Linked DNA regions of Homo sapiens: all the other regions are reported to be linked to region 1. The links are microRNA targets in miRTarBase. Many come from high-throughput screens and were not tested one by one. Region 1 holds a microRNA gene; each other region holds the end of a gene's coding sequence.
What was found. The annotated mature microRNA hsa-miR-2355-3p reads AUUGUCCUUGCUGUUUGGAGAU and lies in region 1 at 2,420-2,441, opposite strand. An mRNA with a match to its seed (bases 2 to 7 or 8) in the 3' UTR can be bound and repressed. Matches are read on the target gene's strand: a 7mer-m8 pairs with bases 2 to 8, a 7mer-A1 pairs with bases 2 to 7 and ends in A, and an 8mer does both.

Region 1 (4,551 bases):
CTCCACCTTCAAGCCGCATCATTGCCTGGGCCCCAGAGGTTCCTAAGCACTCCCCACCGGCTCCTGTGTGCAGCCGTCTTGCTTTGTGTGCAATTTCCTTCCCCCTCGTCACAGACCGCTATCTGCCAAATGCCAGCCGGCTCTTCTTTGTGCTGCGGTGGGCAAGGAACCATACCAGCTCACAGTTCTCTCTGCAGCAGAACACAGACACAAATGAGCAGGTGACCTCTCAAACCGTGTCAAAACGGACCCTTGACCCAGAGACCTCAAAACTTCAGTGGGTTCGCTGTCTAAATCACCCAACTAAAAAGACCTATGTTTGCACAACGTGATTGTGTTTACACAAAGATTTAACGCCTCAATAGAGCAAAAGCTGTTCAGTTAATTTTAATTATTGCTTTACTCTTCTCGCAACAGATTTTTAAAAAAATGCTTAACGGTGAGCTTGTGGTAATTGATCCCACAAGCTTTGTACCTATGGTCCTTGTAGCTCATACAATGACAGGAGTGGGAAGGATGTATGAAAAGTTTTCCCTGGCTGCAAAGGATTCTTTCTGGCTTTGCTCATTAACTATTCTTTTTGGATAAGGTGCACACCAGGAAAACCACAAAAACAAAAATAAAAACAAAAACAAAAACTTTAACATCTAACCATGAGAGGGGGGAGAAAGATACACAGGTGGATTTGAAAGCATTCTAAATGCTTAGTAGCCAATTATCAGCAAGGAAAAGGCTATTATCAAATTGGGTTGGGGGCCCCGCCAATTCTAACGACTTATTAAGATTATTTCCACGGCAGGTAGAATGAAATAAAAAGGGGAAGTTTGAAAATACAAAGATGTACAGGAACACAGGATCACACACAAAAATATCTACAGACAAACAATCCTCAAAAGAGTGGAGCCCTCAGGGGTAATGTGTGTTATTCCTTCAGCCTTCCAGGAATTTGTCTTTTGGTGTTAATACCTTTTCTTTCCTCAGATCTCTGGATATAATATAAATGCCCATCACTCTGAGGTTCCTGTAGATCCTTTTGGCAGAATGCTAGAAAGCAGCTATTCTTCTTCACTGTGTGCTTTTCTGAATTCAGAGGAGAGACTGCTGCACATAACAAGCAAAATCATAACCTGAGTTTGGGATCTTTGCCAATGAATAGATTTACAATTCCTGTATTTACCAAGGGTTTTTATTCTTACGACTTCTAACCCATTATAAATATCCTCAACTGGGCAAAAACAAAGATAAAATAAAATTATCCTGAATTCCACACTTATCATACAAACAAAAATAAAGGCACATAAATCATTTCTTCAACCTCACCTAGCAAAGCTCTGGTGTAACTGAGAGGAGCATACAACTCATACACCAAGATCCACCCATCCATAGATTCCTTTGAATTCTTTAAGGCATCTCCATTTGGGTTTTCCAGCTTAGTAATAAAGAGGATTGCTAAGATGCATTCTTTCAAGGGGTTCAGAGAAAAGTTTCTATTTGCTATTTCTCATCAAGAATTATCTAAAATATGCAAATGCAGTAGTACTGAGATACCACTTCAAGAATCAATACCTTGCGTTTGTTTGCATCTTCAAAACCAGCTTTCTTTCTTAAAATAGGGGAAAACCAACTAAGATCAAGGATTCTTAAGTTCAACCAAAATAGACAGAATGTAGGAATATACAAGATAATCACTCAGTTTTCTTAGCTATTCTGAATTAGTAGTTATACTGAACAAGTAAAATAACAACAAATAGCCATTTATTTTTCTGAACCATAAACAAAACTGAATTCATTTATATTGTTTCAACTTAGGCCCCCAAAAGAAATAACTGATCTCTAAAGGAAAAACAGAGTAGGGCAGGCTCTGTGATGGTTCAGCAGTGAAATCTTTGAAAAATGATTCTTTCAGCCTCAGTTCCCTTATTTGTACAATGGGTATAATGAGAAGACTTACCTCATCGGTAAGTGAAGGTTAAATGGAAGGATGTATGTGAAACACTTGGCAACTGTAAAGATCAATACAAGTGATATTATTATTGCTTACTTGGGTAATGCACTAACATAGAAGCAGCCATTCCCAGGCTTGGTACCCAATTGCCTTCTTACTCCCAAAGCTGATCTGAGTAGGAACGCCTCAGCTTACCCTTTCTTTAGCACATCTGCTCTGGGAAGCTGACTAAGTAACCCACTGCATCTTCAGGCCATCAAGATAATATTACTAATTCCCTACTGGATCTAAAACTAAGGTCCGATAACAACTGTGATCCAAAACATGGCACTTAGCATGACCCCACAAGGCCAGCTCACTAATGGCAATCTCTTCAAGTGGCAAGGGATAAGCTAATACATGTAAAAGCCACAGATGTCACGTGCTCCCTACAGCCACATTCACATGTATGAGAGGAATAAAGTCAGCAGTATTATCTCCAAACAGCAAGGACAATGCCATACGATTATAATAGCATATTGTCCATTGTATCTGGGGATGACACGTCTGACAATGTTATTTTCTATGCACGTGAATGTAGCTGAAAGGGCCAATGCATAATTCACAGCTCCTGACAAAATGCAGACATAAAGTATGTGTCCATTAGATAAGGCAATTTAAATCCTTTTACCTGAAATAGCACCTTTCTCCCTAAGAACTCAGAAAGCTTCCAGTATGCTCCTCATGGTGCTGGTGCGAACCAGAACAGTGAATAGTAGGAAATGTACTGAGGCAGCAAATGCCAGCGCAATATACAGTTTTACCAATAAAAGTTTTATTTTCCCACGGAAAGCACGTCACTCTTATTTCTTCACTAACAGTTAATCTTCTTTTTGGTAACGAGGAAGCAACTGTTACATTTCAGCAAGGCCACTGTACCCAGGGGGAGAATGACAATACCATATGATGGTGTGGCTCTTCAGTGCGTGGTCAGCTAGGCCCATTTCCTGGCAAAGCACCTCCCTCCCACGTACCAGCCTGGCAGCTGATGTGATCAGACCTCTGCCTCAGCAAAATCTCAAATTATTACAGGTCAGGAGCCTTCTGCAAAAGGGGAGGGCATGAGGCTCAGGAAGAGTCACAATCACGAATCTTCAATCTAGAAGGTTAAGCATTTAGTGGAGGTAGGGAGATTTCTTTCTTACCATAAGGGGAAAAGCGGCACATCATCTAAATCCTGACAGAAATAATAAATAATGCAATATTTCCATTTAGTCAATATTGTTAAAGATCATAAAAGGGAAGAAGGCAAGACCTGGTGGGTAGGTCATCTTAAAAGGATTAGGAAACGTTTTGCAAGTGGATCAGAGCAACCTACAGAGAAGAAGACAGCTAAGGTTGCATTAGGCCAGGGTTTCTCAACCTTGGCACTGTTGACCCTTGGGCCCACATGATCCTTTGCTGTGGAAGTTGTCCTGGGCATTGTAGGATACTTAGCAGTATCCCTGCCCTCTACTTCCCAGATGCCAGTAGCATACCCCCAACCCCACATATGACCATGAAAAATGTCTCCAGACATTGCTAAATGTTCCCTGAGGGAAAAAATCTCCCCTGGTTGAGAACCACCACATTAGGCAACTAATGATCTCACATTTTGGGAGAGTGGCTGGACCAAAAGATTTGCTGTCACACATAATGGCCTCTTCAGACATTGACAGGATGTCCCGATACCCTCCTTGAACCATTGTGTGACTCTCCCATTCCTGCTATGCCCTTCTTAGCCTCAGAAGTTCTTAAAAGTTCAGGGAAGGCCCATCTGTGTGGAATGCTCTCCCAGTGCGCACAGGCCACATAAGGTTTTGAGCACAGGGTGTCCAGCTACAGGCTGAGAGGGGCTGAATCTGGCTCTGCTCCTCAAGCACAGGGAAGCTGCCCCACGCAAAGGGTACTTTTTCTAATTCACACAAAAGCATATTGTGGCTTAGCAGCAGCCCTGCTGGGGGACTAGCAGCCATCAGATTCGTCCTTTCCAATTCTGTCAACCGGTTTGCTTGATGTCAAAGCTAGCAGTTTTGTGTGGCCATGAGAATTAGCAAAGCAGGTTTTCAGGACTGAGGAGAACCAGGGGTTGAAGCAACTCCATGGAATACCTCCTTTCTTCATTCCCCAAAGCATGCTTGCTTGTATGCCTGCACTCTCACTATTGTTTTAAACATGGAGACATCAAAAGAAAAAAGATCTGCTCTCCAAGAAGAGTACGATGAGAGGAAGCCTCGGAAGTATGCACTGATGTTCATTTATCACTGGGTTAATAACCATGACCACCTTCAGTCTTCAAAGACCCCTGCCCTGGGTTTCCAGGGTCTTGCCAGACCACAGTGAGGCCGTATAACCACATCCAATCAACCGGTGAAGAGGGCTGGGTAAGACAAACTCCCCAGACTTCTTTGAACTTTTCAATCTGTATCCTGCTTAAGTCAAATAGGGACTATGCATAATATACTTGCAAAGTTGTTATTCTGACAGTCTGCTGTCAACAAAGATGAAATACTCAAACAAAACCACCTCCCTCTCAAAGTCAGAATATAAAACTTGTCAAGTGACAAAGGGATATTCTGACTTCTGAT
Region 2 (4,551 bases), not on the chromosome of region 1:
TGACCTCAGACCCCGGCCTGGCCACTCAGGCTGGGGCTGGTCCTCTGCTCTCAGGCACCACCGTGGACTCTGCCGTCTTTGAGGACCTTTGTCCTGGTCACTGATCTGGCCACTGCACCTCTCCACAAAGGACTGGGTTTGGGGCTAAGGGAGGCAGGGGCGCTTCTGACAGGGCCTGAGGGGGCTGCACCCTTTCCTCCGTCCTCCCCCAGCCAAGGCACGTTCTGAGAATCCCCAGCATCTGCGGGGCATGGCTCCAGCAGCTCCTTGGCCGCGGGGCCCCGTCTTTCCTAGTGGGGCCTCCAATCTCCAGATCTTCCCCATCAGCCAGGGCCGCCCTCCAGCAGCGGAGGAGGAACTGACCGCTGTTCCCTGACCCCCTGCACCACCCACAGACGCGATGCGGCCGCAGCAGCTCCATGCCACGGAGATCACGTCCAGCGGCTTCCGCCTGGCCTGGCCACCCCTGCTGACCGCAGACTCGGGCTACTATGTGCTGGAGCTGGTGCCCAGCGCCCAGCCGGGGGCTGCAAGACGCCAGCAGCTGCCAGGGAACGCCACGGACTGGATCTGGGCCGGCCTCGACCCGGACACGGACTACGACGTGGCGCTAGTGCCTGAGTCCAACGTGCGCCTCCTGAGGCCCCAGATCCTGCGGGTGCGCACGCGGCCCGGTGAGGCAGGGCCGGGGGCTTCGGGCCCGGAGTCGGGGGCTGGGCCGGCCCCCACGCAGCTCGCCGCCCTCCCCGCCCCAGAGGAGGCCGGGCCAGAGCGCATCGTCATCTCCCACGCCCGGCCGCGCAGCCTCCGCGTGAGTTGGGCCCCAGCGCTGGGCTCAGCCGCGGCGCTCGGCTACCACGTGCAGTTCGGGCCGCTGCGGGGCGGGGAGGCGCAGCGGGTGGAGGTGCCCGCGGGCCGCAACTGCACCACGCTGCAGGGCCTGGCGCCGGGCACCGCCTACCTGGTGACCGTGACCGCCGCCTTCCGCTCGGGCCGCGAGAGCGCGCTGTCCGCCAAGGCCTGCACGCCCGACGGCCCGCGCCCGCGCCCACGCCCCGTGCCCCGCGCCCCGACCCCGGGGACCGCCAGCCGTGAGCCGTAAGCCGGCGTCCCCGCCCAGCCGAGAGGGCCGGCGCCTACCTGAGGGCCCCTGTGTCCCGAACCCGGAGCGGAGGCGCCCAACCCGGCAGACGGGTGCAGGCCCGGCCTTTCCCCACGCGGACTCCGCGCGACCCCGGCCCTCTCCCTGCGGCCGCAGGGCTTCCCCGCCTGGCGCCTGCCCTCCAGGGCTGGGGCCTCGCCTGGCGGGACCCCGCAGCAGCCCCGGCCCCATCCCCGCCCAGAGCCGGGCGTCGTGTGGGTCCGTGGGTGATAATTGAGAGCGTCAGACCCAGGACTGTTCAGGGAGGAGCCCCGGTCAGACTCCCACGTGTGAAGACCGGGCCCCAAGTGGCAAGGGCTGGCCTGGGGCGGGCAGCTTGGGTCCTGGACGTTGATAGGAAGCGGAAGGGGAATCGCGGGAAGCTGGCCCAGGTCAGGTCCGCAAAGGCTTCTGAAGAAGAGGAAGGGCGAGTAGGGGCACCTGGACGCTGATGGTGGCCAGGATGCTCAGCTGGCCAGGAGGGCAGCACCTGCTGGGGACGGTGGCCCTGCCTTCATGCCCAGGACACCAGCTGGGTCCAGCTAGCAGCCACTGGGAATCAGAGGAATGGGGCAGAGCTGGGCATTCAGGACCTTGAGGACACGTGACCCCACCCGCCCACCGCCACTATCAGGCCCCGGGACCGCACTGACAGGAAACCTTCCGTCGTGAGGGAGCACTTCCCAGGGGCCGCAGGGACGACACTCTCCAGGGAGGCCCCAGCAACCACACCATCTTCTTGCTGTGAGAGGTCTCACCCCGGGCTACCTCCTGTCACTACTCACTGCCCTGGGGTCCGTGGGCAAGTTGCCCAGGGTGGGGGTGCCTAGCCAGGTGCAGTCCCCGCCCCGCCTAGTCCTCGGCGTCACGCAATGCTCACCTCGCCTCTTCCCCACTAACATCCCAGACTTTAAAATTCAGTAAATCAGATGTACACCGAGCCTGCAGTCTCGCTAGGATGCTTTACTCCTCCACAAACAGCAGCCGCCGACAGGACAGCTTGTGAACGTCTCCGCCTTTTGGGGTGTCCGGGGAGAGGAGGTGGAGCTGTCCCCTCCCAGTGTCAGGCCTCCTTGGTCCTCATGTGCACCTTTTATTCAGAGAGCTTGGGCCCCCTTCCTTTGGAGCTGGGCCCAGGGCAGGTGGCTGGAATGCAGAGGACAAGGGGGCTGGGGCCTCTGCAGGGCCATTCCCACCGCAGTCTCTGCCACGGCCCGGAGCCCTGGGCCCAGGGCCACGCGGGCTCCCTCTGCTGGCAAAGCCACACCCTGCACCGCATGGGGTCCACTGCCCCTTTCCCCACGTGGACTCTGCGTGACCCCAGGAACTGCAGCATTGAGGTGGTCTCAGTCCCTCCCTCAGGTCTGGTGGGCATTGTGCCAGGGGCCACCTTCGGGACAGCTGGCCTTGGCACCGTCTCCCAAGAACCCAGCTCTGTGCATCCCGTGGCCCCACCAGAAACCCAAGGCCACACCGCCCACCAGCTGGGTGTGGTCACCATTCATGGAGGGCCGGCTGGGGCCAGGCTCACCACGCAGAGTTTGCCCTCCGGTGTGATGATGCATGAGACACAGTAGGCCCCCCTGCCTGTGTGTGCAGGGGGTGTCTGTGGGGGGGCCCTGCTGGCTGGACTTTGGGTTTCTCCTGAGCTCCCCTTAGCCCCCAAGTCAGGCCACGGAGGCCTGAGTAGGACCCATGGGCTGTGTGTGTCACTGCAGGTGGCGTGCTCACAACTGCACTGCTGGTCGGCAGGTGGCCAGGGTTGCAGGCCCGGGCCTCGGGCCCCACCTCCTCTGGAGGGGTAGGATCTCCTTCGTGCAGCCCCTGCCCCCTACCCTGTTCTCCGGAGTGTTGGCAGATCTGAGCCCACGGTCACGTGAGAGGAGATGCCTCTTGCACACTGAGCCCAGGCCCAGCTCACGGAGCACCCTGCAGGTGGCAGCGGGGCACCAGGGGCTCATTCCTGGTGGCCTCAGTGGCTTCTGTGGACGACTCAGACTCACATGAGAAGCTGGGAGGAGCTCCAGCTCTGCAATCCCGAGAGGGCAGAGCGGGGGCCCTGGCCACAACCCTGCTCCCCACATACCCGTCTGGCAGAGGCTCTGCCTCCCCTCTGCCCATCTCTGCACACCAAGGCTGAGCACAGCACAAGGCCTCACGGAGAGGGTGAAAAGGCACTGCCGTCTCCATCTCAGTGCCAAGGAATGCCCCTTTCAGAAGCCCTCGTCTGAGAAGTGCTGCCCCTTATGTAGCCCCAGGCATTTTAAAATCTTTGAATCTGCACCAAGTCTCAGAACAGCTCTGGCCCCGGAGTGCTCCGTCCAGGCCGCTGTGAACCGGCTGTCCCCGCGTCTCCTCCACCTCCCCTGACACAATCCTGGCCCCGACTCAGTCCACCCAGGGTGCAGTGCAGAGGCTGATACCCGCCAGGACTTCCTTGCCAAGGGCCCGGCCACGTCACAAGGCCACTGCACGCTTTTCGACATGCACCTGGAAATCGGGAAGGGCCATGCTGCAGTTGCTTCTAGTTGAGACGAGAAGAGCGACAAGGTTGTGATCCACGTGGCAGGTGTTCAGAAGGCTGGGGGCGGGCAGCGCTGGGGAGAGCCCTGGGTACTTCGAGGAGACCCCGAAGGGAGGCTGCTCCCACACCTGCGCCAGTTTCCACCCTCTCTGTGAGCAGGGCTGCGGTCACCTCCCACATCTGAAGAGAACCAACCTGAGGATTTCACGCTGGCTGCGTGCCAGACCAGTCCCTGACAGGTTGTGCGAGGCCCTTCGCTGGACAGCCCATTGCTGGCCACTGGACGGAGAGGCAGAGGGGGCTGAAATTCGGGCCCATGCCTCTGTGAGCGATGACGGAGCAACAGCTCTCCAGCACGTGAAGCTCTCCAGACAGCTGTTCGTGAGAAGCCAGACAGAGGCCTGGGGTCTCAGTCCAGATTTCTGGGGAGTGGGGTGTCCAAGCGTGGGCCACGCTGCTGGGAGCCACCTAGGGAAGCAGGTCGCCTGTTTCTATAGTGACGGTAATAAACCAAGTCAATTTTCTATAGTGACGGTGATAAACCAAGTCAATTTTCTATAGTGACGGTGATAAACCAAGTCAATTTTCTTTTCTTTTCTTTTCTTTTTTTGAGATGGAGTCTGGCTTTGTTGCCCAGGCTGGAGTGCAGTGGCACGATCTCGGCTCACTGCAAGCTCCGCCTCCTGGGTTGACGCCATTCTCCTGCCTCAGCCTCCCGAGTAGCTGGGACTAACAGGCGCCTGCCACCACGCCCGGCTAATTTCTTCTATTTTTAGTAGAGATGGGGTTTCACCGTGTTAGCCAGGATGGTCTCGATCTCCTGACCTGGTGATCCGCCCGCCTCGGCCTCCCAAAGTGCTGGGATTACAGGGGTGAGCCACCGCGC
Region 3 (3,000 bases), not on the chromosome of region 1:
CTTATTTAAATTTTAAATAAGAGATCTGAATTTGTACCAAGATTTCATGAAAAAATTTGATGTTGTTTATTGCAAATACAATTTAAACAAGTTTTTTTTAGTGTTTGTACACAATTTGTCAATTTTTCAATATTCAATTTTCTGTACAGGTACTTTTGGGACAATTCTTATAGTTACATAATGTGAATTCATCAAAATGCAGTTAAGAAACTTACAGGAATATATACACTTGAACCCAAGACCCAAACCTGACATTATATACAACCTATTTACAAATACATATGGACAGACAATATATGTACATAGATTATCATAAATATTGAAAAATAGGTTAGCTTTAATGGATTAATGTTGTTCTATAAATAACATTACAGTTGTAACTGAAACATCCACGGAAGACAGTAATGCAAAATGAGGTGACAAGACAGTGGTTTTAATACTGAAGACTGCTCATTAATGGGAATTCATTGTTCAGGAACCTCAAGGTAGACAAGATAGCTCCCAGAAAATCATCCATTGGAATTTTCCCTAGGCACTTGATTTTGAACCTTAAATAGCCAGAGGATTGGAGGAGCTTCCTCACATTAATTTGCTGTAGAGAAAAGAATTTTTTTTCCATTCCTTCCTGGTTGCCACAGTATCTTCTCCCATACAAAAAAAAAAAAAAAAGTCTGTAGAAACAACTCTTGGTATTCCCTGGCAGGTCTTAGATACAAAGTCAGCAACTCTTTCCAGGAGCTCATGCAAATTTGCCAATTCTTGGTCTCAACTAGAGGTGAGGTTCTGCATTCGAATGGAGTGCCTAAAGCCCAATTAAATGAAAGCAGTGCCGTAGAATCTGTCTTCCCACTGCCTTTCTATTTCTAGATGGCCCCCAATTATTTTATCTTCATAGAAACAGACAAAAATGGACCAACGGTTTCACCCAATGTAGCACTACAAGACGTCTTCCAGTTCCATAAGGGTCTTTAATTACACATGTATCTTGTTTGTAAATTTAGTCACATATAATACAAGAATGCGTAACAAAAACCATGTCTCCACATTTCTGGCCCTTGCCCCAAACAACATTTTTAGTTCAAGGGCAAACCTTACAGCCAGATGACCAATTGACAATTCCATTATTTGCTTCCTTCAACCACTTAATGGAATTATGTATATTAGATTTTAGACATTATGCCTGATGAGCGAAGTACCACATTATTTAATAATATATTCACCATACACTGTGACGTACGATAAATGTGCTCTTAAAGCCAAGTTTCAAAGTAATTATTTTCATTTCTAACTGGGATTGAAATGGAAGGGTTGACATGCAGTTGGACCAAAATGACTACTAACACTCAGTTTGCACTGTTTTCCCTAGCTAACCATTTGTTGGATGTAAACAAGTAATTCTACGTTGTACAAGAATGAGATGACAGTCCAGTGCAAATGAGTTTTTATAAAGCTTACTGCATGAGAAACCCAGTGGCCTACGCAAAGAGAACTTATATCATATCAAACATAGGTGTAACCTGTGGATTAGACCTCTACTGTAGACAAAACATGAACACAACTAAGCCATACATTGTCAAGTAATTCACACTTCCAGTAGGTGAGCATTTTGAAAAAGTGTACTCTCTGGACACAATAATTTTGGCCTATTGCCATCAAATGCCCATTTTCCACTGCTGGAAGCAATGTCAAAAAAGGGCTGGCCCAAAAAAAGACCCAGAGCTGTCAATACAACACTGGAGACAGATGCAACTGAATAAACCCTGTTTTACCCAATTGCACTATTTGGTACCTCAAAATTAGTTATTTTATTTCCCACAGAAATATCTGCATTATCTTCCATTCTAATAAGTTGAAGACACAAACATTTCAGTCTGAATGAACCAAATTGTTTGGGGACAGAGAAGAAAAGTGATGAACAGAGTTCATCTGATTTGGTATAGCAATAATCAATCATCTTTTAAGTAATGGTGACGTTTAAATGGAAAAAACTATGCTCCTAATTCATGGTACAATTTTTCATTACATCATTTTCTCTAAAAATTATTTTGGGTAAAAAAGTATTTGGCTTATTATGCCTACAAAAAGGCAAACCATTTCATTATATTAATATTCATTTTTAAATACCAATGACATTATTTTATGGAATTTATTGATAACTGCTTCTGAATAAAGTTCAAAAAAGCAATTTCTTAAAAGTAAAAGAGTGCTTCTGAGGTCTTTAAGTATTTTTGGTACAAAAAATAATAGTGTTTTTGTCAATGGTTATTCAATATTTTGCTGTAAATTAAAAAGAATTGTTTCTCACATCAAATGGTTCCATTAGGCACATTCAAGTAAAATCATAAAATATCCAAGTTAAACAATGACACAGCCAAGCATGTGGCTTGATAAAAGTTAAGAGTTTGTCCATTCTCTGGAATGGAATAAAATTGTCACTTCCCTTAACCCGAGACTCGTGGTTTTGTTGTTCATATCCATTTCTAACATACAGATAAGTTTCTTAAAAAAACAAAACAAAACAAAAAAGTTCACTTATTCTGCACTCAGAAGAACCAGCGAGGAATCTGCACTTCAAAAGGAAGTGAAACTGAAAACATTAGGTGAAATTTCATAGTAGTTGAGTTTACTCAACACTGGCATCAGATGGACTGAGTTTGAGTTTGAGTGGTGCCAATTAATGGCCACCTCCAGGTGCATTGTGTACCCAATCCAAAACAATCAAGGCCATGCTTCCGGTCATCACCAGTACACCACTTAACAGGAAGAACAAAGCCTGCAAAGAGCATAGAGAAAATTGATCAGCAAGTAATAAAACATATATGCTAAACATTTCTTCTATTTTTTGAAATGTGCTTTAATTACTAAAATCTATCCACTATATAATCTATAGAAAGAATATTTAACTTGCTAAATATAAACTCCTAAGTGATCAGTATGTTATCTGCAGTACACAATAACTACCTTTGAGGCCTTCTGAACTTTTTCACTTTTTCATTCCTT
Region 4 (4,551 bases), not on the chromosome of region 1:
ATGCATTGAACATCTAAGTAAAAGCAACTGTTCTATATTAGATCGCTTTTCAGTAATCTATTTTTCAAAAAGAATTCAGTACCATTTTTGTCCTCATGTCGGGATTCCAGGATCTTTCTATTGTATCTAATCATGATCTAAATCCCAAATCTTGAGTGTTTTAAGTACTTATCTGTGATTTTTTTTTAATGTCCACTGGAAATAACAAGAGTGATTTAAGACTGCCAGTCCAACACGACTCTGTATTGTATCTATTTTTTTTTAAAGAATAAGTGGCTACCCACCTGTCCTTATGAGAAACTTGAAGAAAGCTAGAGAAAAATTATCCAACATTTGAATATGCCAGTGCATTTATTTATTGGAACCACCCTCTGTGAAACATACTTTAAAAGTGTAGAACTATAGACCAACTGTTAAGCAATTTATTCAAGATCAAGCCCTTAAAGGACAGGGCTGGGCTCCTAGATTGCAAGGCTTGGCCTCTGAGCCATCTCTCTTCACCAGTTGTCTACACCAAAACTGAATATGAAGAAATCCAGGATGAGCAACTGCATTTCATTGAATCTTCATTTCTATAACTTAATTTGCATTATTACCTCCAATTAATATAGAAGTGAAAAATTAGCATGAAATTTTATATAAGCAAAGACTCAAGCTATTTTTATTGTCACTGGATGTTTATTAAGTATTTTAGTTTCATAACTTATTTTCATAAACCTTTTGTTCACTATTTGTTTGGGTAAATCTCATCAAATTTAAACACCCGAGACTCTTAAATGTTCTGGAGTTTTGTGGGAAAATAAACACCTATTTGTAAGTATTGATATGTAAAAAGTTCAAATTTTAGTATATGACCAACTACAATTTGCATTTCTCTACCAAGTAACCCTCTATAATGGAATTTCACTGTAAAACAGACACTTATGTCCAGCACAAATAAAGTTCACAATAATTGTTTATCACAAGTAAACAATCAGCAAACTTAATGTTTTACTTATAATAAATACATGCCATATACTTAGATTCTAGAAAGTCATCACTCACTACTTCTTTGTGGTAGGTAGCTTCACAGAGACTGTGAAACAGATCATGGAAAGAAACTGATTTTACCATGTGCGAAGTTAAAGGGAACCACGTATCACTCAGCGCACGGTGGCTCACGCCTGTAATCCCAGCACTGTGGGAGGCCGAGGTGGGCGGATCATGGTCAAGAGCTCGAGACCATACTGGCCAACATGGTGAAAACCCATCTCTACTAAAAATACAAAAATTAGCTGGGCATGGTGGCACGCACCTGTAGTCCCAGCTACTCGGGAGGCTGAGGCAAGAGAATCGCTTGAACCCGAGAGGCAGAGGTTGCAGTGAGCCAAGACTGGGCCACTGCACTCTAGCCTGGAGACAGAGTGAGACTCCATCTCAGAAAAAAAAAAAAAAAAAAAAATGAAAACTCCAGCCGGGCACGGTGGCTCACACCTGTAATCCCAGCACTTTGGAAGGCTGAGGCAGGTGGATCACCTGAGGTCGGGAGTGCGAGACCAGCCATGACCAACATGGAGAAACCGCGTCTCTACTGAAAATACAAAATTAGCCAGGCGTGGTGGTGCATGCCTGTAATCCTAGCTACTGGGGAGGCTGAGGCAGGACAATCGCTTGAACCTGGGAGGCGGAGGTTGCGGTGAGCCAAGATTGCGCTATTGCACTCCAGCCTGGAACTCAATCTCAAAAAAATAAAAAATAATAAATGAAAACTCCACTGACCCTTTCAATATGTGGGCAAATCAATGTTAGATGCTAGTCTAAATCAGAGGTCAGCAAACCCTTTCTGCAGAGGGCCAGAAAATAGTTTTGGCTTGTCAAGTCAAATGGTTTCAGGTGCAACTATTGAACTCTGCCGTTTTGCAAAAGCAGTCAGACAATACATACGCACATAAGCACGGCTGTGTTCCGCTGAAACTTTATTTATGGACACTAGAATTTAAACTTCATATAATCTTCAAACAGATGGTGGGCTGAACTTGACAAGTGGGCAGTAATTTCCTGACCCAGGGTCTGAATACAGATTCTTTTTTGACACGTATTTATTTGCTGGCAATTAAGTAACTTCTACTTCATTATTAATAATAAGTGAGAACAATAATACAAAATTTGCTTAAGGCTTTGTCTAAATTGCTGGTGTATAAATTTTTAAGACAAATTTTAAAAGTTACTTATGTCAAAATTAAATATACTACTAGAGGAACAAACTGGCCAAGTTTCATTTATTTCTTCACGTAACATTTTTACAGCTCACATACAGCAGGAAGCACACCTTTGCACATAATTGTGACATTAGCTTCACAACAGCATCTGCTGACTGCACTTCCAATTATAATATAACAAGTGCAAGTTCATTTGGAAATGTACATTTATACACCTGATATAAATTAAAGATGGGTACACTATGATTGGTGATAGCAAAAGCATGACTTGAGGTTCCTTGACTAGACCACTTAAGAGAAGTGTACCCAAGCATTTTAAAATGGCCATTTGGGGAACAGGCCAATAGATAAAATATCTGTCATGTAAAATTTAACCATTTACCTTTTTAAAAAATAATCTTCAAACTTTAAACCTTTGTTACTGAATTGTTATATGGATATACATCATGGCAGCAAGAAACACATTTACTATAGGCTGTATTTTTGGCGACATGGCCAATTAAAAAAAATTGTTCATAAAGTAATAATATTACTTGTATTAAAATAAAAAAGCTAAATGAAATATTTTCCTTCCACATTTAATGTGTTAGGTTGAGTTTAGTCCCCCTCCTCCCGCAAGAAATCAGTCTGAGACTTAAGTGTTGAATCAAACCTATATTTGTAGTTTCTAAAATGCTGATCCACAGACCACTTTCTTGTTACACGTGTACCAATGAAAACAAAAGGCAAACAGAATCACTGCCATCCCTATGAAAGGAATGGTTCCTTTACTAACATTCTTTAAAAATATACATTTTACACTCCTTGCACCTCAACAAAGGCAGCAATGTAATAAATACACGGTTTATTTTGTCCTCCTCACACCAGGCGCCTGTCCACAAACTACCTGTTGTAAGCCCTCTCTTTTTTGGATTTCTCCAGGGCTTTGTCCATGGTCTTCTCGTTCTCCCCCCGGCACTTGGGACAGTACCACTTGCCCTTGGGTTTATGATTGAGCCCCACGCACGAGAAGTGGAACCACTCGATGGGGCACTCGTCGTTGTCGCAGCCGATCATCTCCCCATAGGAGACCTGGTTGCACAGACAGTACGTGGGTTCGTTGGGGTCGATGGGGAGGTCGGCAGGGGACGCCTCTCGCTCCGCCTTGGCCTTGGAGCGCTTCTTCTTCTTGGAGGTCTTGGCCTTCTTCTCCTTGGGTGTGCCCGAGGCGCCGTCGTCGTGGTCGTGGTTGCTGGACGCGTTCTCACGGTTCTCGTTGTTGCGCTGCCGCCGTGAGCGCTTGCTGTTGGGCTTGTCAGCCTGCGCTGCCGCCTCGCCTTTGGGCCTGTCCGCGCCAGCCTTGCCGCTGTTGCCCGCTGTGTCGCCCAGCTCCTGCTGCGCCTCGAACAGCTCCACGTGGCTGTCCACCTGCCGCGTGCGGTTCTCCACCAGCTCCACCATCTGGCTCACGATCTGGATCTTCTCGTCGCCCAGCTCCTGGCTGCGGATCAGCGCGCGCTGCACACAGTGCAGCATCCGCCGCTTCTGCGCCCCGTCTGTCTCGCGACTGAAGCGCTCGTAGCACTCGTCTAGCTCCTTCAGGATCTCTGGGGGCAAGAAGGACAGGCGTCACTCGCGAGCAGGACACCGGGACAACCCACACGGCCCCGGACGGGTCTACGGAGAGGGCTGGCAGGGAGCCTAGGGGCCAGCGCACGGCTTGCCCAGAACAAAGCCCACCAGCCACAGGCTCTCCCGGGCCTATCTGTTCCTGTGCTAACCACAACACAACACAACACAACACAACACAACACAAATGCCGGCCCAGCTTCCACAGCGGCAGGAGCCGCTCCAGCCACCCCAGGGAACCTGAGAACAGTTCCCAGGCACGCACGGGTGACAACGCCCGAAGCCATTAAGAGGAAACGTTTAAATGAGGTGCAGTGCTCGGGACCCAACATTTATTAATACTTTCTATTAATGACTATGTCTATACTGCCATCATTTTTACTCAAATGTTTCTATTTGAATACAATTATTAATATACATATAACATTATATAAACATGGTATTTATTACATTTATACACAATATACAAACATTAATAAAATATATTATAAATTATTTGAATATTTCAAATAAAAAAGGTCTTTATTTTCTTTATTTTAATATACCAACATCTAGAATACCCTGTTAAATGAGAGAATGTGTATAAATTTATATAATAGCTCTCTATGATTTAAAGAACCGGGTTAACAGTAAAGGTCCAGGATACTTTGTGACTTAGGTCCTCAGTTTCAGTCCCCACATTTATTCTAGCATGTTATCCCTCTGTATTAGTGACAGCAAGAACAGTTCTGCCACAATAATCCAG
Region 5 (3,124 bases), not on the chromosome of region 1:
TACTTCAACTTTCCAGAGAGAAAGGGGAGGCGGTGGGGACAGTGTGCTCTGGTTAGCCGTTCTGGAGGGACAGAGGCTGCCAGCAGGGACAGAAGCAGTAGTGGGAAGTGCTGTGGGGGGACCTGAGGGATGAGGCCAAGACCCTTCACATTTCCAAGGGAACCCTTGTCCTTCCCTCCCACAGTGGCCAGAGGGCTCGTGGAGAAAAGTACTCTCCCAAAAGACAGAAACGCTCTCAATTCCTAGGTTTGAGCCAGAGTTTCATGCCTCAGTTCTCCTGCACGAGCCCCACTCAGGTGGGCTTATACACACGCATGTGCGTGCACACACACACATATACACACACACACACACACACACACAGGCACATGCTTGTCCTCACCCACCTCTCAGAAGGCAATAAATGGTGGGTTAGGAGCAGCCTAAAAGCTACCACAGACACCAACTCGTCCTTAACACTGTCTCTGCTTACTTATCTTAAGCTGCCGTTTACTACAACGTTCACAGTCATTTACTCTTATGCTAAGTCCGTAATGCTATGGAGAAGATGGCTCCAGCTCGCTTGAGTCCATGCAGTTTGTCCTCTTCCTGGTGTCCCTATCCATCCAGCAACTGCAGGAGGGCATGCGGGGGCACCTGGCTGGGACCCCAGCTCGACAGGGGCCTGCAGCGGCATCAGTGGGGGCTGTGGGAGCCCCTTCCTCTCCTGCAGCCGCCCTCACTGCTTATTCTGCGTCCTTGCAGACAGGGCTCCCACACCACTGCCTCTGAGCCTCCTAGGGTCCAGCGGCGCTGCCACAGGCCTCTTCCCAGTCATGGGGGCGGAGTGAAGGGCCCCTGGCATTACCTGTTAGAGGCAATCTCACAACCAGGGCACGAAAAGAGGTGAAGGACAAAGTTCACAAACCCTAATGAAGTGGGCAGAAGTGGCCAGAGCTCTGCCCTCTGCCCTCCTGCTGCCCCCACCTGCCAGGAGTCACCCTTGCTGTTGGGCTTTGTCACACAGGGCACCACCCGAGGAGCCACGGCAGACATAGGTGCCCCCTGTGGGTGCCACAGGGCTCCTCAGGTCCCCAGAACCACACTGGCTTATGTGAACGGAGCATCGGCAGCCAGCCTGGCAGCCCCCTCCCTGCTCAGCATCAGTCCCATGACAAGGTCCTGCTGCTGTGCCACCCAGGAGTCCTGAGAAGGCCACCCCCACCAGGGGCATCCTCGGGTCTCAGGGAGGGAGAAGTGGCCGCTTCCCTTATCCACAGAAATCAAGAGGTATCCGAGTGAAGATCGGGGTGGCAGAGGAGGAAGATGGGTCCACAAAGAGGCCTGGGGCCTGGAGACGGAGGGGCTGGTGCAGGGGCATGAGGTATTTCTGGCCCCGCCCGCCTCTTGGCCAGCTGCGCCGTCCGGCGCTGCCTCCCTTTCCTCCCGTTCCTCTGGGCCTCAGCTAGCACTACTGTGGGCTGCCCAGGACCTGCAGCAGGAGGCCGTCCCCGCTGAGGCAGAGGCTTCCACGGACGCAGGTAGTGCAGCCCCCAACCGCAGCATCAAGCCTCCACATCCAAGAGCCAACTCTTGGGGACCCAAAGATGTCAGGTCCCCATACTCTGAGGAATCAGGACACAGCCCAGTGCCTGACACCACAGAGTGAGGCAGCCCTTCGGGTGAGGGCCTGGGCCCCGAGGGATGGCAGCCACCACTGCCTAGGCAAACGCACCTGGGGCTGAACTTGGCGCCCGGCACTTTGAGGACGCCAGCACCAGTGGGCACTCGGAAGTGCCAGTTCTGGCCCAAATTTGGTGACCTGGGTCAGAGGGACCTTTCAGAATGACTTGTTCCCGTCAGCAGATACCGTCAAGACACGCCTGGCTCTGAGAGGGGCTGGGTGCCCGTGTGCCTGTATCCTCCTGGGGCCAGCACGTCTCAGAGGGTGTCCCTGTGGTCCCCGGGTCAGGGCACGGGGCTGAGGCACCTGGAGCTATTGTTGGCATGTGGTTGTTGCACAGATGAGCCCTTGGGGGAGGCGCGCCATGGCCGAGCACAGCGTCCTGGTGGTGGATCCAAGCAGGGCCGTCAACCGTCCTCCTCCCCAGAAAGCAACAACCCCTCCACCGGGGGCAGGGGTGCTGCTCCCCGACTTCCAGGCGACTGGGTGACAAGTCCATGGGATGTCCAAAGGGCAGGGTCCACCCCAGGGCCACTGGCTTCTTCCTCCCATGTCTTCTCAGGGCTGCTGTGAGATCCTGCAGAGAGGAACTTGTTCCTGGCAGCCCTGGGCCGGGGAGGATCAGCGACCCTGGAGAGTCCTAGGCAAAGCTGCCGGCCCTCAGGGTCTTCCAGGAAGAGACTCAACGGCTTAGTGGGGTCTGCCCTGGTAGGTGACAGGAGGGAGCGGAGGGAGCCGGTGGGCGTCACTGGGCGGCCAGGGCAACTGCCCGGGGCCCTCAGGGTGACTCCGTGGTGAGTGAGGTTTTTGGAGGACAACTGGTCATCACACAGACACGTTAGGAGCCGCTGGTCACTACAGCACACACAGATTAGTCATGGTTATGAACAATGTCCCCAGGGAGGCCGGGGTGTCAGTGAGGCCAGCTGAAGACAGGATGCGCCCACTTAGCTGCCCAGTCTCCGGGCCAGCCCTGCTGGGGCAGTGTGGGAGGGAGGGCTGGCGGAGGCGGCAGGAGGAGGCGGGGGCAGCAGCCCCTGCCGTCAGTAGTCTGGGCGGCGGTGGTCTCCCCGCAGGTGGCCGCTGGCTCCTCAGGACTGCGGGATCTGCTGACACCTGGTGGGGCTGGGCGGGAGCCTGGCGGCTGCGCTCTGCTCTGTGCGGAAGCTGTACTCGTACTGCAGGGGCGGGTGGGGACAGAGAGACACAGTCAGTCCATGGGACACTAGGGAAACCCCTCCACAGCCTCAGATCAAGATCAGGCAGAGGCCTGGGCCGCCTCGTGGGGCATCTTGACATGGCGCAGCTGGCCAGGCCGGTGCCAGCCAGAGCCTGCCCTCGTGGGCCCCTGAACTGTGCATGTGGCGTGTGTGCGTGGACACGCCTGCGGGGGTGACAGGCTCCTGTGGTGATGACTGGTACCCTCCACAGTGCCTGCCTGCTCCCTGTGAGGCCAGGCCT
Region 6 (4,551 bases), not on the chromosome of region 1:
TGCTTTCTGCCCCCATCTCCCACTTATCAAACATGCAACTCCCAGGAGATTGTGTCCAGACCTCCTCGAAAAATTGCTCCTGACAGGCCCCACTCCACCTTTTTCAAGTGTGAGTGATATCTGTGAATGTGCCGGCTCAGAGTGGAGGCGGCTGATGGACCCCAGGGACCACAGTGCAGGCCAGCAAGCAGGGCAGAGTGTTCAACCTCCTCTCCCCTGACATGGCATTAAAAGTTTATGGGCAGGCTGTAGAATTGAAAGCCCAGGAACACGGAGCCTGTACCTCTGACCCAGCCTGGCTCACTCTCCAGTGGGGGACTGCAGGGGCAACAGGAGCTCCTCTGGGGAACTGTGAGGCTTGCCCCTGGTGGGTGCCCAGGATGTCTGGAGAGGAAGGAAGGCTGCCTGGAGGTGCTGGCATTGAGGTAGGGCCAGGCTCAGGTGGAAGACACTAATTCTGGGCCGGGAGATGTCCATGCAAAGGCCTAGAGGTGGGAGGGTCATGGGAGCCTGCAGAGCCCAGTTCAGGGCTATCCTGAGAGGGCCAGGGAGGGAGCAGGAGAGACAGGTGAGGTGACCTTGGTTGGTGAAGGTGGAGGAGGCCATGCCTATAGGACAGTGGGCTGGGACATTCCAGAACTGAGTCCTAGGGGCCTGGGCTTATGGTTACTGAAAGGTCTTCAGGTAGTTTGGAGGTGAGCCCAACCAATGAAATGGATTGGCCATTGCTCTTTGCAGACAGCATCTCTAAAGTGGTGGAAGCCCCTTGTCCCCCCCTCCTTTCCTTCTGGGCCAGTTCAGATGGTCTGGCTGATTCTGAGCAAACCATTTTCTCTTTTTGCTGCCTGTGAGATGTGCTTAACCTTTCCTTTGCTTCATTCATAGATCCGGACAAAGGACAGAGTCTTTGACAGTATCAGCCACCTCATCAACCACCACCTAGAAAGCAGCCTGCCCATTGTCTCTGCAGGGAGTGAGCTGTGTCTCCAGCAGCCAGTGGAGAGGAAGCAGTGACCTGGCCAGCACTGCTCCCAGCACTGCGCACCAGGTCAGGAGGACCTGGAGTGGACTAGAATCGGGGCTGCTGGAACTGGGACAGCTGCCTGTGGCTCAGAGCCTTCTTCAAAAGCTTCAAAAGGAAGGCTTCCTTTAAGGTCAAGTTTCATAAACTTGGTTCTGAATTTCTCATATGCATATTAAAGGTGTACATACCTATACATCCTGTACAAATTATCCCTCTATATTTATATTTTTTAAGACTAAGAAAGATGTAAGACTAATGTTCTGTGCTGTATGTTTTTAATGAAAAAAAAAAATAAGTTTAACTGTAGTTGTCCAGGCAAAAATTTAATTCAACTGACCCATCCCACCGGGAAATGCCACTAGGAAGGTGTAGCCTGCAGTTTTACCTAATAAGCACAACTGGAGGGGAATAGAAACACAGAATTGTGAGGGAATCGCAAGGCATGCTGCTCAGAGCATGCCTAGCCCTGCACTGAAAGCTATGAGATACTGGTTCTGAGGCATGGCTGTGCTTGCTGGTGGGAGCGGGCATCCTCCCTTGGCCTCCCTGGGACACCTCCTGTGCTCCCTGCACTGCACTCCACGTGCCTGGGGTGTCTACACAACTCGCTGCAGCTTCACTAAAGAACAGGTGGCACTCCAGCTTCTCCGGGTCCTGCTGAGCACAGGGCCCCGCCACCCTTGACCCCAGTTGTGCGAGGAGTACTTGGGAATTCATTTCATGCCAAAATGGCACAAAATAAGCTTCACCAACCAAGATTTTGATTGACAAGTGCTTCCCTGTTCTCATGTATCTAATGCTAAAATGGGTATTTGTAGAAGGGTGGTCGGGGCAAATTCCTGGTTTGTGTCTCCCTCTAGTCAGCGGTTGACTACAGGCTGCTTATGGTAATTGCTAGTAAAGTCCCCCGCCCGCCTTATACAATAGGGGAGAAGCCTGTGTGACAGCAAGAGCAGGCACCCATCCCAGAGCTCAGTCCCGAAGACTCAGGTATTGAGGCTTCTGGGGCTGCATGTGCCAGAAACCCAGGAGTCACTGGAATCCATTTGAGGTACTGCCTCTGGCATGAGGGATGGGGGAAAGGCCTGCTGTCCCAACAACAAGGTTTCTCCGTTGCTGCAGGGAAGAGCATGTGCCTGCCCCCACTCTTTGTCTTGACTCCCTTTCTTCCAGGTAAAATACTGTCATTTCCTGAGGAGTCATTTGGTGTTAGAAAGCTGGCAATGTTTATACCTTTCAAATACTATCTGGGCTGAGATTGCCCTGTGATTTTCACAGATGCCCTTTAAAGAATAGATGGATCCATTTGCTTGCTGGCAGCGTGGCTCTTGTTCTGGTGAGACCCCACAGGGTACAGCACCCTGTAGGGTATGGGTCAGCAGAACAGAAAGACACACTAAACACGCTTAGAGTTGGATAGTGATAAATCTGATCCTGTAAGGAGAGTTATGAGGAGACTGAAAAATCTGGCAGATAATAATACTGCTAAGTTCTAATGCCAATGGTATGAGCCCCATTTCTGCCTTGGGGTGTGCGTGTGGCCAGATGGAAGGACAGGTTAGAGCTAACCAGTGAGGATGAGTCAGGGCAGGCCCCAGCCTTCATACATGGCCTTCTAGGGAGTCTTTGCCTTTGAGGGTCCAGTGAATTTGAGATGACAGTGAAGTCAGTGTTCTAGAATGTTCTGCAGTGGATTGAAACTCTGGAGAGTCTGACACTACTGTAGACTGCACTGCTGTTTTCTGAAATGGTTTTGGCTTCAGGCATCATGTGGATACTCTGCTTAGTGATCCAGAAGCAGACGGCTCCACGGGGTTGCTGGCAGCAGCTGCATCAGGCTCCTGCCCCAAGACAGCATAGACTTGGGTGCTCTGAGAGCTGCCCTGCACATCTGTCCTCTGGGAGGCTGGGAGCCCTGGAGAGACACACACAGCTCTGACCCACCTGTGCATGAATGTGCACCACATAGAAAAATGTGCGAAATGACCTTCTTTCTACATTCATGCATTCCCCACTTGTGAAAGGTCAAAATGCTATTATAACATTCAGGGACAATAGCAAAGTAGGAAATGCAAGTTAGGAGCTGTGAATGCTGTAACATTTGATTTACTTTATTTTTCTCTTGGGGGGACTTGAATGGTAACCTGCAGCTTTAGTAGCTCTTGCTGTGAAGTCAGTGTCTAGTTCGATGGTGATAGAAAATATATATATTTTTTGCATGAGAATCAATTTAGAAAATTTAAAGTATTGGAGTCGAATTTTTTCTTTTTAATATTAATTCAAAATATACATTTTTAAGCTCAGATTATATATTGGTTACACTAGAATAGTGCCAGTGAAGTGAGCAGGCTTCAGACATAGCAGATGGCAGCGATTTTCTAATCTTTGTTCCCTCCCATTTGTAAAGTGGGTTAGAGCACACATTAGTTATCCCAACTCTTCCCTCCAGCACTGTGTGGTGGGCCATTCCTGTGAGCCTCACAGACACATGGGGAAAGTGAGGCTGGGGCTGGTGCCACACCTTCCTGGAGGCCATGTTGTCATCTGGCTGCAGAGCTCTTCTGCTCACTCAGCATTTCGTGAGCCCTGCTGTGTGCCAGCCTGTGCTTTGAGCTCAGGATTCCAAGGCAAAAGCAATGGAGGCTCCTCCCTGTCTAGCCTGGGCCCCTCTTCCCCACACTTTCTCAGGCCACATCTCTGCCTGGGCAGGGCAGGGAAGCTGAACAATGAACGCAGCGGGAATGGCATTAGGCCTTGCGTTCCAGGGCCTCAGGCTTCCAGGGCACAGTCGCTGCTGCTGTGCTGGGCCACCCTGGTCCTGCAGAGTGCACCTGGGCCCTGCTGTCCCTCCAATGGGCACCCCCAACACTTAACCCCAAACTCTATGTCTTCTGGGAGTACAAGGTGGGGGCCAGCAGTCCTAAAACGGCCCCTCTGCCCTTACCGAGTGGCCCTAGAGACCCCCACCCACCTCCCCTAACCCCACGAATGAATCAGCTGTGCTTCAAATGACATCTCTGTCCCACGGAGGCCGGCTGGGCCTCTCATGGGGGTGCTCATTGTGGTTTAAGTCAGCTTTGATTCTTGACCTCCAAGGCTGCCTCTGAGTAGCTAACCGGAGAATCGGGTGGGGAGGTGAAAAACACCGCAGTCAAATGACTCAATCTTTAATCCTGTGCTTAAGACACCACTGTTGCTGTTTTTTATATTTGAAGCACCCAAAGACTGGGCGTCCGCTCAGCCTTGATGAGCGAGCAGCTATTTTGTCAGGCCATCTATGATGTTGGGATAATGGACAAAGGCCTGATTGGGCCATATATGGCCTTCTTTAGGGCCTCCTGGAGGTGGAGGAAGTTGTGGGTAATTTCTAATAAAGACGGGAAATGACAAGCCGTGTGTGTAGGTAAAGTCCTAACTTAAAAGGAAGGACAGGCCTAGGGAAGGGTGGACCCTAAAGGGCCCATGTGCCAGGGGAACAGTGGACATGTGTGTCCAGCCCAACCTCCATGTCTGGTGCTGGGATTCTG
Region 7 (4,551 bases), not on the chromosome of region 1:
TCCTAGTCATCAGAGGGAGATTTTGTTGTTATCTCCCTCTAAAGATCACGGAACTTAGGCACAGAAAAGTAATTAGTCCAGGTTTGACGAATAAGTGACTAGTAGATGCTGAATTCAGATACTGGTAGTCTGGCTTCTAACTACTTCTCTAGTTAGATACTTCAAAAAAAGAGAAAGAAACAGCCTATATTTTATTTAACTCAGCAAAAAGTCCTTCTTATTTCATCATTTTGTTCTTACCCCTTTTTGTTTGAGTTTTAGATACTTTCTAGGCATATTCCTGCAAATATAATACCTATTAGGGGAACTCTGCATGATACTAATGATGCTCAATTTTTTTCTGTTGACAGGGGAGCCTTAGCATCATCAAATCTAAAATTCCAACATACTGCTCCATATGCTGTTGAAGAAGGGAGCCAACAAAAATTGTTTTTTCTACCTGTTGACGTGTCAAGCACTAACTGTGGGTACTCATTTATTTTATTCTTTTGTAAATCACAGCCACCATTCATTATTTACTAGGTTAAGATGAATAGACACTGAATCAAAGTTATTCATCAACAAAAAAGAACAGTTACTAATGGAAAGTTATTAAAATAAGTTCTATAAGAGTACAATTTTGAGGTTTATTTTTTGTATTTTTATTATTTGTGCGAAGAACCATTATTGAGTTTGCAAGATAAGATGTATTTGTATTTTCTAGTGTCTTTTTATTTATAACAACACTTTTTTGGCAATCAGTTTGTAGCTGTGCCCTTATTTTTATAGATAGTTTGCCATTTCTTGGGTTTAATGTTTAACAAGGCTATAGAAGTTTAAAATAGTGGACAAATGTTTGTGAATACACTTTTAAAAAATTGTTTTAAAAGAGAAAAGCGGTCTTGCTTTGTTGCCCAGACTGGAGTGCAGTGGCATAATCATAGCTCACCGCAAGCCTCAAATTTTTGTGCTCAGATGATCCTTTTCATCTCAGCCTCCTGATTAGCTGGGACTATAGGCGTGTGCCACCATGCCCAGCTAATTTTGAAATTTGCTTGTAGAGATGGGATCTCACTCTGTTGTCCAGGCTGGTCTCAGAATTCTGGTGAGTGATCCTCCCACAGTGGACTTCCAAAGTGCTGGGATTACAGGTGTGAGCCACCATGCCTGGCCCCATGAATACACTACTAATATTATTTGTAAATATGTATTTTATAATGTACAATGCTTGGAAAATTTTCAGAGTATTCTAGTTTAAAAAATTTTTTCTAATTCTGTAAATTCTATTACAAGTATGTTGTTTATTACAACTCATTACAACTACCTAAATTTTAGGTGTTAACTGTATTTAAGTAAATGTGTTATTTTTGCATTTCATAGCCAGAAAATACTGATGTTCACTTAAAGATATTCAGCAATTAAAATGTTAAAACTTGTACATGCATTCATTGATTTTGTTGTGCTTATGTTTAGCAATTTTTAAGAAGCTTTTAAAATATAATATAGACATAGTTCAGAATTTTGATGTAATAGAAGCAATTCCCTCTGGCTACAACAGCTGCCTGCCTGCTGGCCTTGCTTTTACCTGTTTTCATTGCATTGAGCACCATCCAGAGCTATCTGCCATCTAGAAAGTACTGTAAGATTTAATTAATTACAAAATTTCTTGGAAAAGACCTGTAACATAGACAGTAGAGTTATAAACATTTTATTTTGCTTTTATTTTTTCTTTTTGAAATACAAAATGTGCACATTGAGTTTACACAAACACGTGATGGCAAATTTCAGTGTACATGTATTGTACTACTCTTAATTTCTACACTGGTGATAGCAGGGCAGCTTTCAACATCCTATCTCTACACCAGAATAGATACCTGATTTATTGTTGCAAAGACAGTTGCAAATTTCCTCCTTCTGTAGCCTCTTGGTCTTTGTGATATTTCTACAAAACAGGGACGATGTGTGTGGCTTTAGTAATGTGGCAACTTTACAGTTTTGGCTAAGATGATTAAAAATAATCTGAATTATGATGAGCTAAATCATACTGTAATCTGGATTAGTTGTTGAGCACTTATTTTCTACTAAATCTTGGTAGTAGTTGTCAATGTAATGGAACCACTGGTGCTTTCAAAGTGAATTTTGCTTGCTAATTTTGCTTGCTGTTTGTTCTTAGTAGACAGTGGGGTAGTCAAGGTTTCTTTCTTTGTCCCTGAATGGCTTGTAATATAAATAAACATGCTGTAAGGAAGTCAGGGGAAAGAGGACAGATTTGGCCTTTAATGCTGTTAGGATTACTTGTTATTAAGCATTACTATATACTGGAGGATAGATATCCTGACCCTTTGCATATGTCTGTAAACATCCTTGTTTTGTTTGATGCCTTCTTCAACTTCCACTTAATGATTGATACTAATGATTGATACAATAGAAAACAGCCTGTAAGAAAGATTGAACAAATCCAAAATTATTATATAGGCCTTGGCTGTAACATATTATGGAAAATTAAATGCTTATTAAAATAAGTTTTATTAGGCATATGCTGATATCTGATAATAAACTAATTTTTAAATGTTTAATAATTTTTAAATGTTTAAAAATGCCAGATAAAACTAATTTCTAACAGAAGGTGGGAAGGCCATAGAAACTGGAACTATGTGTTTTTTTAATTGTTGTAATCTTGTTTCCTTAAAGTATATAAATGGAATTTAAATGGAATTACAGCATTCAAACATGAAAATTAATTTAATTTCTGGAAATTAAATGCAGATGTCACTATATTAGAAAACCATTCAAAATCCTAGGACTGAATACATACAAATGAGTAGCAAAAAACACTGATATTTTAAAATCACTGATATGTGAAAGCCTCAATAATCCCATGGCTAAGGAACCAATAAAACTATATGCCAGATTCTATTACTTTTGAATATTCACAGAGTATGAAATGAGTTAGACCATCCCCTGAACTCAGTGGCATTATGAAAAGGATGCAAATTTATAACTGAAAGCTCAAATCTTTTGGGGATTGCTTTATATTAAAACAAAGCTTGTTTGCATAATATGCTTCAGTGTCAAGCTGAGCAATCTATGCTAAAAGTGGTAGCTCCAACTTTAAGGGTGGTAGAATAGTTCACATTTGTCTGTTGGATTCAGGATCTATTTGACAAGTTAAATCACATTTTCAAAGAGCTGCATGGAGCGCATTATGTTTTCATCCTGTAAGGGAGAAACACAGAGCGATTAAATTCAGCATATCTGCAAGGAAAAGTACACTATTTTGCCCCTGAGTATTGCCTCCTCCCATCAACCACCTCAACCACCTATGCCAAAAGCTCAAATATTAAGTGTTTGCAAATGTAAATGCCATTCTATTCTATCCATTTTCCACATAGATGACTATGAAGGACCCATTTTATATTTTGTGGAGTCTATTGACCAGGCATTAAACCACTTTATTTAAATCTTTACTTGGTATTAATAGAGGATATTTCTCAAATCATAATGCCAAAATGGAAACTACAGAGGTGCAGAGGTGTGTCAAAGCAAATGAGAATTTTGGCATTCTATGTAGATCACAGGCCAAATCACACAGACTTTTATACAGGTACAAGGAAAATTTGTGTGTATGAGCCAGCAGTTCATGAAGATTGGAGGCTGGCGCATAGGAGGCAGGGTGGTGGATTAAGAGGTAACATGTTTGCAGTAATCATCTCTCTTTCTGTCTGCTAGTTATGGCTAAAGCTGCATGGCCTGAAGGAGCCTTTAAAAATGAATGGTCTCTCAATTACAGAGAAAGAATTGGGGAGCAGAAACCACTGCTCAGTGGCTGTGTTCAGTTTAGCATATTCTTTAGAAATGAGTTAGGGGACAGACTTTGGGCATTATTGGAGCACTTGTCAGTTGCATGTGAATAGCACTTACTGAGCTGTTTATGGTAGTGGTAAATGGTGGCTGAACCAATAATGGCTTCCACTGCTAGAAACCAAGTAACATCACCGTCAAGCAGCTTAATGTCACCAAATTAATTCTCTCAAAGACCACTGCATGGAAATCCAAGTTGAGAGACAAGCAGACATCCAGAAAAGTAAGAACAACAATTTAAAAATAAAGAGAAAAACTAAAGAAACAACGGATTTCTTTGTTTTCAGGATTATTTGAAAAATTCTTTTTTTCTTTTTTTAGTTTTGAGGCAGAGTCTATTTCTGTTGCCCATCATTCTGGAGTGCAGTGGCACAATCATGGCTCAACAGGGATCAAGTGATCTTCCTGCCTCAGCCTCCCAAGTAGCTGAGACTTCAGCCACGTGCCACCGTGCCCAGCTAACTTAATTTTTTTTTGTAGAGATAGATAGGGTCTTGCTATGTTGCCCACATTGGACTCAAAATCCTGGCCTTAAGTTATCTTCCCGCCTCAGCCTCCCATAGTGCTGGGATTACAGTTGTGAGCTACTGTACCAGGCCTTAACAATTTTTAACTGTGGTTCTGCCCACACATCAAGTCAAATAATTCTAAGTAAGCTAACACTGGTTTCTTTGATAACAGGCTACTACCTGGAGTTCTCTTCAGAGAAAA

Region 2: the mRNA of VWA1 is a reported target of hsa-miR-2355-3p. Seed matches in the 3' UTR shown: 7mer-m8 at 2,299-2,305.
Region 3: miRTarBase lists SLC38A2 as a target of hsa-miR-2355-3p. Seed matches in the 3' UTR shown: 7mer-A1 at 2,402-2,408.
Region 4: miRTarBase lists ING1 as a target of hsa-miR-2355-3p. Seed matches in the 3' UTR shown: 8mer at 3,047-3,054 and 8mer at 87-94.
Region 5: miRTarBase lists MVB12B as a target of hsa-miR-2355-3p. Seed matches in the 3' UTR shown: 8mer at 577-584, 7mer-m8 at 373-379 and 7mer-m8 at 166-172.
Region 6: miRTarBase lists SHC3 as a target of hsa-miR-2355-3p. Seed matches in the 3' UTR shown: 7mer-A1 at 4,318-4,324.
Region 7: miRTarBase lists PACRGL as a target of hsa-miR-2355-3p. Seed matches in the 3' UTR shown: 7mer-A1 at 826-832.

The regions. Positions count from the first base shown.
Region 1 is chr2:207,107,580-207,112,130 of GRCh38, forward strand. MIR2355 (microRNA 2355) reads right to left here and starts at 2,494; the gene lies at 2,408-2,494. The region is part of intron 2 of KLF7 (KLF transcription factor 7); the gene reads right to left.
Region 2 is chr1:1,438,686-1,443,236 of GRCh38, forward strand. VWA1 (von Willebrand factor A domain containing 1) reads left to right here. Exons shown (of 3, transcript NM_022834.5): 3 at 396-4,197. The coding sequence ends at 1,102. Among named protein-coding and RNA genes, the nearest start is that of VWA1, 5.3 kb to the left of the region's middle. RefSeq lists enhancers at 2,128-2,177, 2,794-2,943.
Region 3 is chr12:46,358,437-46,361,436 of GRCh38, forward strand. SLC38A2 (solute carrier family 38 member 2) reads right to left here. Exons shown (of 16, transcript NM_018976.5): 16 at 1-2,773. The coding sequence ends at 2,675. Among named protein-coding and RNA genes, the nearest start is that of SLC38A2, 13 kb to the right of the region's middle.
Region 4 is chr13:110,718,462-110,723,012 of GRCh38, reverse strand. ING1 (inhibitor of growth family member 1) reads right to left here. Exons shown (of 2, transcript NM_198219.3): 2 at 1-3,784. The coding sequence ends at 3,081. Among named protein-coding and RNA genes, the nearest start is that of ING1, 7.0 kb to the right of the region's middle. RefSeq lists an enhancer at 3,052-3,743.
Region 5 is chr9:126,502,894-126,506,017 of GRCh38, reverse strand. It overlaps MVB12B (multivesicular body subunit 12B), which reads right to left. Exons shown (of 10, transcript NM_033446.3): 10 at 1-2,841. The coding sequence ends at 2,755. Among named protein-coding and RNA genes, the nearest start is that of NRON, 94 kb to the right of the region's middle.
Region 6 is chr9:89,009,910-89,014,460 of GRCh38, reverse strand. SHC3 (SHC adaptor protein 3) reads left to right here. Exons shown (of 12, transcript NM_016848.6): 12 at 886-4,551. The coding sequence ends at 1,014. Among named protein-coding and RNA genes, the nearest start is that of S1PR3, 21 kb to the right of the region's middle.
Region 7 is chr4:20,726,935-20,731,485 of GRCh38, forward strand. It overlaps PACRGL (parkin coregulated like), which reads left to right. Exons shown (of 9, transcript NM_001258345.3): 9 at 351-4,551. The coding sequence ends at 407. It overlaps KCNIP4 (potassium voltage-gated channel interacting protein 4), which reads right to left. Exons shown (of 9, transcript NM_025221.6): 9 at 1,672-3,195. The coding sequence ends at 3,148. Among named protein-coding and RNA genes, the nearest start is that of PACRGL, 29 kb to the left of the region's middle.